3 separate regions of the Homo sapiens genome follow, and all the other regions are linked to region 1. Evidence: fine-mapped expression QTL. A gene starts in region 1. Each other region holds a variant in brackets. All regions are shown on one strand. Distances are between the middles of the regions.

The links.
Region 2: its variant is fine-mapped to the expression of KIAA0087 in cerebellum (GTEx, PIP 0.97).
Region 3: its variant is fine-mapped to the expression of KIAA0087 in prefrontal cortex (BrainSeq, PIP 0.95).

Annotation. Positions count from the first base shown.
Region 1 is chr7:26,537,647-26,540,406 of GRCh38, forward strand. It overlaps KIAA0087 (KIAA0087 lncRNA), which reads right to left and starts at 1,179. Exons shown (of 2, transcript NR_022006.1): 1 at 760-1,179. LINC02981 (long intergenic non-protein coding RNA 2981) reads left to right here. Exons shown (of 5, transcript NR_148502.1): 5 at 607-2,760.
Region 2 is chr7:26,397,837-26,400,596 of GRCh38, forward strand. It overlaps SNX10-AS1 (SNX10 antisense RNA 1), which reads right to left and starts at 1,582. Exons shown (of 2, transcript NR_136272.1): 1 at 1,505-1,582. It overlaps LINC02981 (long intergenic non-protein coding RNA 2981), which reads left to right and starts at 733. Exons shown (of 5, transcript NR_148502.1): 1 at 733-1,185. RefSeq lists enhancers at 1-825, 1-139 and silencers at 610-1,069, 1,160-1,269. The variant G/A (reference allele first, on the strand shown) is at 1,243.
Region 3 is chr7:26,486,052-26,488,811 of GRCh38, forward strand. All of the region lies in intron 1 of LINC02981 (long intergenic non-protein coding RNA 2981), which reads left to right. Among named protein-coding and RNA genes, the nearest start is that of KIAA0087, 51 kb to the right of the region's middle. The variant G/C (reference allele first, on the strand shown) is at 1,491.

The DNA.
Region 1 (2,760 bases):
GCCTCAAAGGGTCATTAAGGGGGCTAGATTGGTGAATGCACAGGCAGCTTCTGGAGAAGGAATTTTCCCAGGACTAGGAAGAAGAACTGGTGAGTGGGAGGCTTTGAAGGTGAGTGAGGGATGATAACAGGTCTATGAAGAAGTTCAGGCTGGGAGAGGTCTGGCCTTGGAGTGGGTTGGGGGTGCTCTGGGCAACCCTTTTCAAGGGAGGAGAAAATGGAGTAACCGTCAGGACAGAAAACAGGGTGCCTTGGTGCTAAGTTCCAGGGGGACATTGCCTTGGGGGAAGAAAAAGACATCTTGGAACCCCTATCTGTTTACTACTGTTCATTTCTTAATTCTTTATTTGTAATGAAGATGGGAAGGTTTACAACCTTGACAGTTCCATTTATTTCTACCATTTTCACCTAAAACAATACAAGGAACATCAATTATTTCCACCCTGGTTTCAACTGCAACTGGATAAAGTCGGCTTAATTAAACATGTTCAGTGTCTGAGGGTCTGTTTTGTTTCTCTGTCTGTCTGTCTGTCTGTATCTTTCTTTCTCTTCTACCAACCACCACACCATCCCTGTCCCCTTCTTCCTTCTCCTCTCCGTTTTCTAGCCTCACAGCTGGGCACAGGAAAACACGGAATAAGGACCCAGTGAACTAAAGGGGCTGAAGCCATGACTAGGAATCATATGCATGAAGAAGCCCAGAAGAGCCAATCCTCCCCAGAAGGGCACCCGGAGACCACTAAGGAAGGAGGGAGGATACCTTCTGTTCCCGTGTTCAGGCTCCAATGTATCCAGGTCACAGGAGGCTGCCTCTCCAGGCAGAGAAACTGATCCGTCCCTATCAGTGCCAGGCAGAGGGCAGGGGATTTCGCACCTGAGCAAGGGTTGGGATGACTCCCAAGCTTCCATTCTCCCTGGAGTTCCTCCCGAGGGTCTCTGTGACACAGAGGAGGAAGCAGGAGCTTTCTTTGCATAATCATGGTCAAATATTTATATTTGTTTAGGATTTGCTTCTATAGGATGTTTTCGTCATTCAAATCTATTTCCAAAATAAATCTGGATCTCTTTTATAAGAAAATGCAATGAAAACACCAGAATGATAGAGTAAGAAAATAGAACTGAAATTACTGAAAAGGAGCTGAGGAATTAGATGTTGCCAGGCATCTGAGATGAGATGATTAAAACAGCCAGGTGGCTCTGAGCTAAGGCAAAAGGCAGAATCTGGGGCAACACAGTTTATATCATCTGACAACATAAAGCATGCACATCCTTTGTGTCAAGCCGCACTGCTTCCTGGAACAAACTCAAGGCAGAATTTATTACCTGGGTTCCTGTTTAAGTGCATGTCGAATGACCAGTTGATGAAAGCCTTCAAATAAAGTTTTGCAAAAGAACAAAGAATGAGACGTGGAGTACTGACCCTCTCTGAAAGGATACCAGAATTAAGACTACAGAAGCCGACCCAACATTTGCTCACTACCTTTTAAATTGGACTTAATGCCATATTTTAAAAAATAACCACTTTTAAAATAATTTTTGCTTATATCAAAAGTAATACAGGTGAATTTCAGGAAATTTGTAAAATACAGCTTCAAAGAGAGAGGTGGAGAGAGAGAGAGAGAGAGAAATCTATCATCTATCACTCACCACTATTAACATTTTAGTGTCATCTTCCCATGTTTTTGTTTATGCATAGATATGCATATCTATTTTGCAAAGATAAGAAATTACTATATCTTTTAAACGTTTTTATTTGATAATGTACTATGAATATTTCCCATTCAATTAAATACCTCTACAGTGACACTGAATGCTTATGATACTGTATTGATATTAATATTGTAGAATACATCAGGAAGATATTATTACAATATGTTTAACCAATCCCCTGGATGCTAGATATTTGGGTTTCTAACATTTCATCTTTTTAAATAATTCTGTGATGAACATCTGTTCGCAGGGTACCCTCCATGACCAGTTGTGTTTCAGAGAAGGCAGATCTAGTCCATTCAAGGCCAGGATCCCCCGGAGGTCAGTACATTATTTGCCCAGTGAACTGTGGGCATATCTATACTTTTTGCACTTTTCCAGGCAGGAAGGAGGAAGTAGTACTGAGAACCCACTGTCTTGGGTTAAGGAGCATTCTCTGGGCTGCTTAGGGGAGAAGATTTCTATCCCAAGGTCCTGCAGCCTTGGGGTAAGATGGGAGCAGAGAAGACAGAGTGTGGGGCCACTGTGGAGGCAGCAGGGAGGGGTTCCTTGTGGCCACTGATCGGAGCCCTCATATTCCTTGTGGGGAGGCTCTAATTTCTCCAGAGATGCTTCTCTACTTGGAGGTCTGCCCTGTGTCGGGAGCATTAGTGGCCCTGCAGAGAGGTGGGACGTTATTTGGATACTCTTGCTCGTAGGGAGTTTGTTGCCTCCCAAAAGGTGTGTGGCATTTGTAAGTTGTTCTCCTTTTCCATGGTTCTTCAGAAGACTTGAATATGGTTTGTAATCTAGGCACCAAAATTGAAATTCCCTCCAAAGAGCCACACAAATAAATGACCTCCCATACCATTAAGTTCTCTCTATGCATGGCAATCCCTAGTTAACCTCAGACAGGTAAGAAGAGAGAGTGTTTTTCATCAATGACAAGGAAAGTTTTTTCTGGCTAATGTGGTATAGTAGCAAATGCAACTAAAAAGGACACCCCCAAGCATGTCTTTAATTCATTTGTACACATCCAACAACATCACTTTTAAGTACACATAGGTAGGAT
Region 2 (2,760 bases), 140 kb before region 1:
TATGCTGGGAACCTTTCAAGGCTTTGCTAAGCCTGGGTTTCCAGGAGTGCAATAAGATCGCTGTGATAAACATGTAGGTAAAGCAGTTGGCATAGTACCTTGCGTAGAATAGTCCTCAGCATATGTTTACTACTGTCGTTGTTGCTATTAATAAAAGTGACCTAGCTCCTCTCCTCGAGAAGTTCACAAGGGGCCCAAATGTGACAGGGGGAGCTATCAGAAGGCGGGAGGTGACTTCTTGCCAGGGAGCAAGCCAGGGCAAGAAGAGAGGCGCCGTGAAGCCTGCGTTCCCTCCCGCACGCGGCTTGCCTCGGTGGCCACACGGGGAGCTCAGCAAGGCCCAGGGTTCGGGAGGCGGGTCCTGCACAGCGACGCAGCCTTGTCCCGGTGGCCGCAGGCCTGGGGAGCAGGGCGCAGCACACCCGCCGCCCGCTTGCAGGCGAGACGAGAGCGGGGCGCCGGGATGCTGGCGTCCAATTTAACCACCAGGGCGCACGGGACGGAGGCCGGGGGTCCCGCTTTTCCGTCAGAGTTCGCGGTCACGAGTGGAACCCACTGAGCACTCTAGTTTCCTGGTATTTTCATGGCAGTAATTGGATGACAGAGTCAAGAGGCAGGGCCTGCGCCGACACTGACTAGCAACGCGCGGCCTCTGAGCCGCGCCCGGCCGCCCACCCCTTCCTCCTCCAGCACCGGGCCGGCTCCCCCTCCCGGCCCGGCTCGGCGGCTGGGGGGTGGGCGGAGCCGCGGCCGGGCAGTTCATTATGTTGGACAGGGCGCGTCTGCGCCTCCGGCCGCCGCGGCTCCCGGGGCCTCCGCCTGCAGCCGGCGGCGGAACGAGGGCAGGCGGCTGAGACAGGCGAGCTATTTGCATTCCCCGGCAGTCATTTTTATATGCGGAGGTAATGAAGTTGTCAGCGGCGCCCCGAGTGTGGCAGAGCCTGATATTCAAATCGCCCTGCCCGCTCCGCCTGCTCCCGCCCGCTGGTCCCGGGAGCCCCAGGCTGCGCGCGCCCGCACCGCATCGCCGCTTTGCCCCGCGACCGCGCGCGCCTCCTCGTCCTCCCCCGCGCCTTTGTTTCCGTCTCCTTCTCCTTTCCCTCCTCTTTTGTGTCGGGCCAGACTCAGCCCCAGAAACCAGCCACCCTGCCGCGTCCGACTGCCAGGGATCCCTCACGCCGCGAGGTGAGCTGGTCGCAGGTGTGGGGAAGTTCGCGGGTGCAGCTAGGCCGCCGCCCTCGC[G/A]CTCGACGCCACGCCCGCCTCCTCTTTCCTTCCCCAGGGGCCCCTTGCCCTCCCTTCACCTCCGTCTCCAAGAAAGATGACCTAGTACTGCCATTACCGTTTGGGCCTAGAGGAGTTTTCGTTCCTCTTTCCGAATGCATATTTGTGGTCATTTTTTATGATTGCAGAAACCCAACACACAGCTATTCTGTCAGGCTGCCGAGAAAAGGCTGTTCGGCAGTTGCAGCCCTGGTGAGGCAATGAGGAGGAAAGGTGGACGCACCTGCCTGGAGTGGTTGAAGGAAGGCAGTGAACATCCACGCTCCTGGGGTTGGTTTTCCTGAACCTCTGTAGCTGTGCTGCTCACTGGGGCAGCCACTGACCACAAGAGGCTGCCGAGGGCTTGCAGTGTGGCCAGGCCAGACCAGGATGTTCTCCAAGTGGGAAATACACACCCCATTGTAAAGAAGACTGTATGGAAAAAAGAATGTGAACTGGCTCATTCATCATTTAAAAACATTGATTGCATATTGAAATGATAATATTTTGGGTATATGGGGTGAAATAAAGTATCATGAATTAAATCTTTTTTTAAAAATGTGGCCACAAAGAACATTTAAATTTACACATGTGGTTCACATTATATCTCTGTGGGATCGCACTTAAGACCCAACCCCACCCATCCTCTAACTCTGCCCTCTCAGCTTGCTCTACAGGTACTTTGGAACAGGGCAGGGATGGAGGGAAGGTCCTTGTATCTTAGGGATCAAATGCCCAGGAAAATAATTAGGAGGTGTTTGGGATTATGCTGAAAACCCTGACAACACTGAATAGCAGATGTCTCTTTCTTTTCCCTTTGTTCACTGTAAAGAAAAACTTACACTCCCCCACAGCCATGCCACAATTCCATGGACCAACCATTCATGTGTGAAGGTGGGCCTCTAGGAGTGTTTTGTGCCTTTTAGGAGTTATTTGTGGCACACTAAACTTGCTGACATGCCATTTAGAAAAGTGAATACTGTGTACGCACTGTAACAACTATTCCATAAGTATTTTTGGTGTACACTGTTCCTCAGCACTCACAGGCTTCGGAGTAGGGGCTCCCGGAGTATGCATTGACACGATGCGCTGCAAATGATCCGGGCGTGGGGAAGTCCCCGAGTGTGCATTGATTCCACACACGGCCACGGCTCCTACAGGGCTTTTATGGTGCAGCTCGCCAATGATCCGTGTGTTAAAGACTCCCCAAATACACATTGACACGATAGACTGGAGTTGTTTGGGTCTATCGTGGCAATGATCCGGGGATAATGGCAGTGTCTTATACAATTTCACTGAGATTGGAGTGCTCATGGTCCTAATGGCAGAACCGGAACTGCCCCAGTTAAGTCCCACCATGGCGCCCAGTAAAGGGTGTGTGGGTCTTTGACCTTCTGCTTCATGACACTGTGGCATTGCTAATTTTACTGATATTTTAACTAACATAATTGAGTTAGCATTTTTTTCCCCCTGAAAATTCATTTTTGTAATTCAACACCT
Region 3 (2,760 bases), 52 kb before region 1:
TGAAGAGCCTCGTCTGTCATAGGAATTAAATTATCATCTCAGGCTTAATTACCAGTGGCATTTTCTCCCTGAGTTCAGAAAAGTTTTGTTTTGTGTTGTTTTAAATAAATGATTGGCATAACACAACCCAATGGTGATCCAGATTTTCAGAGCAAGTATAGGAGGTTTGGGCCCAGCGAACCAACAGGGTACATACAAGCATTTGATTTGGAATGACATGCTGCCGGTTTGTGAAGATACGGGCCGGCTCTCTTCTTGGCTGATTTATCTTTCAGCACCGCTTGTGCATCAGCCTGTCAGTCAGTGAGTGACACTGTCAGGTTTCTTGGTGTGCTGAGGACACTGCAGTGGGTGACTGGGCAAGTTGAGGAGATGCAGAGAAGCCCCTTGAGGCAAACTCAGCCCAGGGGATCTGAGCTGGGCGTGGAGATGAACAGAATTCCGGGTGCACCAAAAGTTGCCATTAAATGTCCTATTTACGTGAAAAGACAACTGCAGTGTGGCACCATGGCCCTGGGAGAACAGCAGCTTCTTTTTTTTTTTTTGGAGAAAGGTTCTCATTCTGTTACCCAGGCTCATTGCAACCTCTGCCTCCCGGGTTCAAGAGATTTTCCCACCTCAGCCTCCCCAGTAGCTGGGACTATAGGTGTGCGCCACCACACCTGACTGATTTTTGTATTTTTTGGTAGAGACGGGGTGTCATCATGTTGGCCAGGCTAGTCTCAAACTCCTGACCTCAGGTGATCACCTGCCTTGGCCTCCTAAAGTGCTGGGAGGGGCTTCTTAACCATCAACAGAAATGGGCTGGAGCCAGGCAGACCTGGGTTTCAGTCCCAATTTTGCCTTTCAGTAGGTGGTTGCCTGTGAGTTTGTGGCACATTACTTGATTTCTTTGATCTTTGATTCATCTAGGGAAAAAGAGAATAATCTGATCTACCTCTGCGGGTGCTGGTAAGGATTAAATAAGAAGATACATGCAGACCCAGCATGGTGCCGAGCACACTAAGCATTCAGCAAATGGTAACTATGGAAGCCCCGTCACTCCCACCCCTGTCTTACTACACAATGATGGTGGTCTCCTCTCTACCTGAGTCAGACCCATTTAAGGAAATGTGGAAGGAGAAATGCTCCAGGCTCCTCCCCGTTTCCCAAAAAGAACAAAATGAATGGAGACAAGCCGTGAACTTGGCTTTATCACTCTCTTGCATGGTCTGGCTTTAGGGGAAGAAAGAAGACCAGGGAGGAAATCTGCAGTGTGAGCCACTCTTCTCCCCCAGGGTTACTTCTCGGGCTTTTGCATGGGCAATTCTACCTGTAGGTAAAATTTCCATAGGCCCAGGAAACAAAGTAAGTCCAGCAAGTGCTTGGCTAACTGTTGGCAACCAAGGACTTCTGAGATTTTTGCTTATAAGGTTCACCCCAGTTCATGCTTTCAAATGCCCTTGTCTCTCTGCAAAGCCAGCTTCCTTCAAGATTTGTAACTTGGCTTT[G/C]GTCAAATAACTTTGAAATTGAATGCTGTATCTCAAGATTGATGGCCCAATAGGCATCAGGACCACATTTGTTTCCTGCCCAGGACTTTTTCAGGGGAGGAGGGATGAATGCGGAAAGGTAGAGCACAATATCAAGGTCCACGAGGGGTGTTCTGCTCCCTTGCCCTACCCCCACATACACACCAACACTACCTGCCTCTCAGCTTCTCTTGCAGCCAGCAGGCCTACTGATCCATCATTTATCACTGTGAGGTGCTGCCTAGAAATCAGGCCCTATGGTTTATTGATGTTGCCACTACTTGGAGGGTCCCGGGAGCCAGGCGCTAGTGGGTTTACTCTTGCAGTGGATGCTGTGGGGCTCTACCCAGATTCTCCTTCAGGACCAAAGCATCATTCCCTCGGCTACCAGGAGCACTGCCTGCTGGTGGCTTACAGTGGAAGCTCTTGGCCTTTGGCCAAAGAGGGCTGCCTTGCTCAAGGATATGACCTCTCCTGGGGGTATCTTGCATTCAATGACTGGCCACTGTGGGGGATACAAAGGCTGGACCCCCTTGCCTCAGTTGGGCCAGTTCTAGGGGCCATCCCAACCCCTGTGTGGCCAGCTGAGGCCTCTGCTGTGACTGCAGCCCAGTTCAGCCTCTCCTGCAGCCCAAGGCTGCTGCCCGCATTCACTCACAGGTGTGGTTCCTATTGGACAACTCTCCAATAGGCCCCCTGGACACAATCTTATTTCAGAGTCTGCTTCCTGGAAAATCTGACATGCCACAATGCTCCCAAAGTCCCTTGGGTGGAGGATTTCATAATGAACAGCCAGGGAGGAAAGACTTTCAGAATGTAAGAGAGAACAATGCGTGACAACCACACCACTGATGTAAATTCAATCTCCAGTCTCCATGACCAGTTCCCCCTCCTGCTCTCCTGGGTGGGTTGGGGGAAGAAGGTAGCTATAGATGTGGTTACAATAAGGTATAGGCTAATGAAATGGTTGAGCCATATTTTTTTTTTCTAGAGTGTCATCACAATCTGAAAATACCATTATCTGTCTGACCCTGAAGGCTTTAATCCATTCTTGGGCAAATTTCTGTGTTTTGGGGGAAATCTAAAAATGAGCCTGTGGAGAGGCATGAGGACTGGTTTATGAGTAGGAGTGGTTAGTCGATCACCTGTTGTATGTGCTTTGAATTAAATGATATAATTCTCTTGCATTATATCCAAAATTCCAATAAAGATCTGATATTTGAGTTTTGAAAAATTCGTCTGTTATCCATAT